2 separate regions of the Homo sapiens genome follow, and region 2 is linked to region 1. Evidence: fine-mapped expression QTL. A gene starts in region 1. The other region holds a variant in brackets. All regions are shown on one strand. Distances are from middle to middle. Region 1 holds the start of MAX (MYC associated factor X). Region 2 overlaps MAX (MYC associated factor X).

Region 1 (2,910 bases):
TCAGCTATTTTTTAATTTTCTTTATACCTTTTCTTCAAATACAGAGAATCAGACCATAATAACTTTATGTGACACTTTGATGATGTAACGTTTGGCTCCTCTACATTTCCAATTTTTGCATTAGAATACCATGTTGTGCTAGATTCTACGGGTCTATAGCAGTCACATGACTTGGTTAAAGGCGATTACCGCATGTGGCTTCAGCTTCACACAATTATACAGATATGGTTTAAAACCTACTTGTTCCTAAATAAATCTTCTGACCACTTTGCCCTGAAATAATACTACCAGACCAGAATGCTGCATTTCTCATTTCCACTTACATAGTGGCATCTGGATCCCCTATCTGAAAACTACAGAACAATTCAATTCTTTGCATACAGCTCCTCTTACTCACCTAGAATCACTGAACTTATCACCTGAGAATCTAGAATAATGGGATTTGCAACCCCCCCACCCTCCAGAACCAGGCCCCACCTCACCTTAGTGGTTAACATTAGAGTTTACTACAATATTAAAAGTAATAGTACGATCTCTTTTTCTCTCTGACCCCAAAAAGGAATAGAACTGAACGGAAATAAAAATGAAATGGAGAGTAGGAGACGTACCGCAGATTGAAACCTCGGTTGCTCTTCCTGGAATAAGAGAGAAAAAAAAAAATAGAAAATATAGAAGTTATTTTTACACTTAACATTCAATAATAAGAAAGAAAATGCCGGCGGCAGAGGAAGCGGAGGGTGGGGAGTCAGCCCGACACCCCTTCCTCCCTCCCCACCCCTTGCCCCCACCCTTCCACCCTCGGCGGGATCCGGTAGCAGGGTAGAGGGGTCCCGAGCGCCGCCCCTCCTTCCGGGATCCGACCTGGGCCAGAGGGGTCCCGAGCACTGTCTCCTCCCTGCAGACCCAGCTCGGGCATCTAGGCACCCCCAACCCCTCTCCGCCCTTCCCCGGCCCCCAGGATCCGCGGGTCACGGGAGGAGAGGATCGCAGTCCGAAGGGGCAGGTCCTGAACGCCGTCCCCTTCCCCTGGATCCGGACAATGGGATCCCGGGCGCCCCCCATCCTTGTCCCCCGGATCCTGAGCCGGGGAAGGTGGGAGCGGGAGGCCGCAGCACCCTCCCGCAAGGGAGGAGGTGGGGGTCCCAGAAGCCGCGTGTCTTCCCCCAACCTCCAGTCCCAGGAGGCCGCTCCGGCCAGGAGCCGGAGGGGAGCGAACCGGGAACGCGACGGAGGCACTCCTGGCCCCGAGGGGAAGGGGAAGGAGGCGGCGGCAGCCCGGCCCCCTCCCGCCGTCGCCCCGCTAAGAGCCCCGGCCGCTGTCCCCGCCTGACAACCCGCACGGGAAGGAAGAAGCCCCAGGACTCACGTCGCTCTCCACCTCGATGTCATCGTTATCGCTCATTTCCTACGGCCCAGGGAGCGGCCACTGCAGCGGCGGCGGGGAGGGGAAGGGGTGAAGGGGAGGGGGAAGTCACCGACAACAACAAGCCGAGTCCCCCCCACACACACACTCACTCACTCACTCACTCGCTCTCTCACTCACACACACACACAACACGGGCAAGAACCACCTCCTCACTGCAGCACCGGATCAACGGCGGCACGCACGCCCGGTCGGCCCCCGCCACGTGACCAGGCTCGCAGCGCTGGGGCAGCCGAGACTTGTAGTTCTTGTCCCTCTAACAGACGGCCCGGGTAGCTCCAGAAAAACTACAAATCCCGGAAGAAACCGCATCCAGGCGACGCCAGCCCGGCTTGTTGACGGAGCCCAAGGCGCCTGCGCGTCCCGGGGAGGGGGGGGGGGGCGGGGGGGGGCGGGGAGAGCCGCGGCGCGGCGCCTCCTGGGAGTCGTAGTCCGCAGACCGCGAGTTGTCAGGAGATTTTCCTCCCGAGGCGGCAGAGGAGGCTGCTGGGAAGACAGGACACGTGGAGGGAGCTGGAACTCCTGGAGCCGGGCACCGTCTGCGCGCTGGACGCCGGGCCCAGGGGACTGGGTGGAGTCTCTGGGGGAGTAGCCGGCTGTCTAAATAATGCTGCCTCTCTTTGGTGTGACTGGTTATACTTTGTCTTCTTCATACGGAGTGGTTCCGTTTTGCGCCTAGGGGCGTAACCCGCCCGGGAGGGAATCTGGCTGCGGCGGACCAGGGGGCGCGGCTCGGGATGCCTGCGCGAACCCTCGGGGGCTGGTGGGGAGGTGTCAGTGGCAGGTGTTTCGTGGTGCTACCGGACAGGCAGAATGACCGACCTCGCCGGGCGACCGCTCCCAGCCGCGAGAATCCTGTATTCGTTTATCTGGGAGTGACCATCCTCGCTACTCAGCTACTCACGTGAGGCTCCAGCGTTCACACAACGCGAACCCTCAACCACTATGGACGTGGAAGTAAAAGCCCCTTCAGAGTTTGTTGTAGCCCAGACAGTTTAGGCAATATCCCAGCTCAGAGTACCATAATTAAGATTGCAAAAAGGATCAATATGGGAAACTTTTGCAGTTCCCTGTCCAGTTAAAATCATATTTATATACTGTGGCATGAAGTGTAATCACATGCATTCCACCGATATTTATTGAACACCTAACTTGCCACAAGGGGATGCCATAACGGATAAGACCAAAACCATCCCTGCCTTCATGCAGCTCACAGCTGTGCAAGCAAGCGTGCCGGTCCTGCCGCCATTGTAAGAGTGTGCAACAAGTCCCATGGGAAGGAAGAAAACCATAACAGACACTTTCCACCCTGAGACAAAGTACCCATACTACTCCTTTACATCTGGTCTCCAAAGTGAATGACATCTTGAGCTTTTCCCATGAGTTACTGATTCCCGGATGAATACCATATTATCCCTGACTTTTGAATGTGGAAATTTGGGGATATGTCACACACAATTCTTGTGACACACATTCCTCAACGTGAG
Region 2 (2,910 bases), 23 kb before region 1:
TGTCCCTGAACACCTGGAGTCTCTGGTACTTACACAGCACATTCCACTCCAAGGACCTCAAAGCTCTTTTCAGACACCTGATGCCAGGTGTGATCCCTACTGCAGGCAGAGCACCTGAGCCCCAAGAAGGGGAGAGGTCAGGCCAGAAAAGATACAAGTCTCCAGATGTCCAACTTCCTAGCTTCCACTGTCTCCTCACTGGCGCCTCAGGTCCTTCCTCAGGACGGCTCTAACACTCAGTTACTCAGGCCCCAAGAAGCAGGACCAAGCCTGCTACTGAGCACATACTCCATGACTGGCTCTGACTCTGCAGGCCCAGGTGCCAAAGCCTGACCTGGCTGGAGCACAGCAGGGCCAGCTGCCCCACGAGCTCGGGTGCTCACCTTGCTGCTCCAGAAGAGCATTCTGCCGCTTGAGGTCGTCAATATCTTGCTGGTGTGTGTGGTTTTTCCTTCGCATATACTGGATATATTCTGTGGCTTTGTCTAGGATTTGGGCCCGGGATGCCTGTGGCAATATGAGAAAAAGCACAGGGGACAAAATAAAAACCCAATCCAGGCAGTGAGGGAACCTGGCCTGCAGCAACTGCTTGGGTGGCTGGAAACGAGAGGGTAAGGTGGGAAAAGGCTGAAGAAATACAATAATGGCTACTGTAGGCTTTATTTATTTATTTATTTTTTTATTTTTTTGAGACAGAGTTTCGCTCTTGTTGCCCAAGCTGGAGTGCAACAGCGTGATCTTGGCTGACAGCAACCTCCGCCTCCTGGGTTCAAGTGATTCTCCTGCCTCAGCCTCCTGAGTAGCTAGGATTATAGGTGTGCGCCACCACGCCCATCTAATTTTTTTGTATTTTTAGTAGAAATGCGGTTTCACCATGTTAGCCAGGCTGGTCTCAAACTCCTGGCCTCAGGTGATCTGCCCACCTTGGCCTCCCAAAATGCTGGGATTATAGGTCACAGGTGTGAGCCACTGCGCCCAGCCTGTTGTTGTTGTTGTTGTTGTTGTTTTTTTTTTTTTGGAGACGTAGTCTCGCTCTGTTGCCCAGGCTGGAGTAGAGTGGTGTGATCTCAGCTCACTGCAACCTCCACCTCCCAGGTTCAAGTGATTCTTCTGCCTCAGCCTCCAGAGTAGCTGGGATTACAAGTACATGCCACGTTGCCTGGCTAATTTTTACATTTTTAATAAAGATGGGGTTTCACCATGTTGGCCAGACTGGTCTCAAACTCCTCACCTCAGGTGATCCACCTACCTCGGCCTCCCAAACTGCTGGGATTACAGGCGTGAGCCACTGCATCCGTGAAGGCCTTCTTTGTGACATACAAGGTGCCAAGTGCTTTACAGAGCTTAACTCACAAGATTAGTCTCAGAGGTAGCTCTACTAAGAACCCAAGGATCAGAGAAGTACACCGCTTTATTCAAAATCACCAGCTGCACAGTAGCATGGCCTGGCTTTAAACTCAGAGCCATCCGACTCCTGAACTGTACTCCTCCCATCTCCTCTGGTTCTTTAGGTTGCTTTAAAGTCTTTAGCTTGGCTATGTCTGGAAACATTAAAATACTACTTAAATGAAAGCTTTAGGTCACTAATTCTGCTAGGGCCTGGCTTGAGACAGGAATGGGTACAATGTGTTTCATCAAGACCCAAGATTCCAGCCAAACTCTGAAACCACTGTTAACTATTCCGAACTGAAC[A/G]ATGCTGCTGTGTCACTACTTCAGCCTTCCTGGCTAAAGAGACTTTCATAAAAAGCTGTCGGTGCTTGATGTCAACACAGGAAGAGCATGAGATTGGGCCATTTCAGGAAACAACCACACCTCTACAATGGCTGTGGGTTGCCTGGGTACTGCCTTGCTAGAGTAAGTTCGTAAGTCAATAACATGGATGTCATGTTACTGTGCCCCTAGACATCAAACTTGTCTGGGAGATTCTCTCCAGGCTACAAACATAGTCAGAGTTACTTATGGCCAGGCAGCCAGCCAAACTGGTAGAATAGTACAAAGCCAAGCGAAGCTCAAGGCGGGGTAGCCTAGTAGCTTAAGTATGGCCTTCCAGCCAGAGACTCCTGAGCAGCCGGAAAGCTTCTTACTCAGGGTAGGGAGTGCTTGACAATTCTGTATTACAAGCCCAATGGGTCCTAAACAACCAGAACACAACAGCGGGAGAAAGACAAAGAAAACATGTACACCGTGGCTAGCAAAACCAGATCTACTCATATTAAATCCTAACAATCTCAATTTATAGGCCTCAGTTTGGGCTGAGTTTCAGAAAGGTTTGTAAGGCCCGTGCTTATTCATAAGTCCTCACAAGTACTAGAATTTCCAGGCTTTCCTCTTTAGCACCCTTAAGGTAATTTCCTCAAGGAAATTGTTCATAATCAACCATTTTTATCAGGTGCAAATTACGTACAAGATACTAGGCAGATACTGTGGGGAAACAAAATGTATTAGTCATGGCTTCTTTGCCCCAAAGCTTACTTACTATCTAGTTGAGGAGATAAATATGTCTATACATGGAAATATCACAGGGCAGTGCTGACAAGCGTAACCTGACTAGCAGAGACTAGAGACACCACGGGAAAGATGGCTTCTGGCTGGGGTGATTACCTACTGTGTGCTACGCATTGGCCTTGGTGCTGCATGTGTGCATGCAACACGCTCCTATCTGAAATGGTGAGCCCTGTGTTAGACCAAGGTGGCGTTTGGAATAGCACAGTCAAGATGGGATGGGGAAAAAGTGAGATGCGTTTCTTTAGTTGAGTCAGTCAGCTTATGCAGAAGGAATGAGAGTTCCTAGCCTAGCAATGGATACTTCAGACACTGTTTCCCATTTCTACAAAGGGACCTTATTAGGGTTTATTAGGTGACAAAATGGGGTGGAAAAAAGGAGCACATAATTAGAAGGGACTAATTAAA

What was found.
Region 2: its variant is fine-mapped to the expression of MAX in whole blood (TOPMed, PIP above 0.99).

The regions. Positions count from the first base shown.
Region 1 is chr14:65,100,938-65,103,847 of GRCh38, forward strand. It overlaps MAX (MYC associated factor X), which reads right to left and starts at 1,580. Exons shown (of 5, transcript NM_002382.5): 1 at 1,367-1,580; 2 at 609-635. The coding sequence starts at 1,402. RefSeq lists enhancers at 651-1,151, 1,845-1,994 and a silencer at 1,165-1,514.
Region 2 is chr14:65,077,530-65,080,439 of GRCh38, forward strand. MAX (MYC associated factor X) reads right to left here. Exons shown (of 5, transcript NM_002382.5): 4 at 384-507. Among named protein-coding and RNA genes, the nearest start is that of MAX-AS1, 11 kb to the right of the region's middle. RefSeq lists an enhancer at 1-849. The variant A/G (reference allele first, on the strand shown) is at 1,693.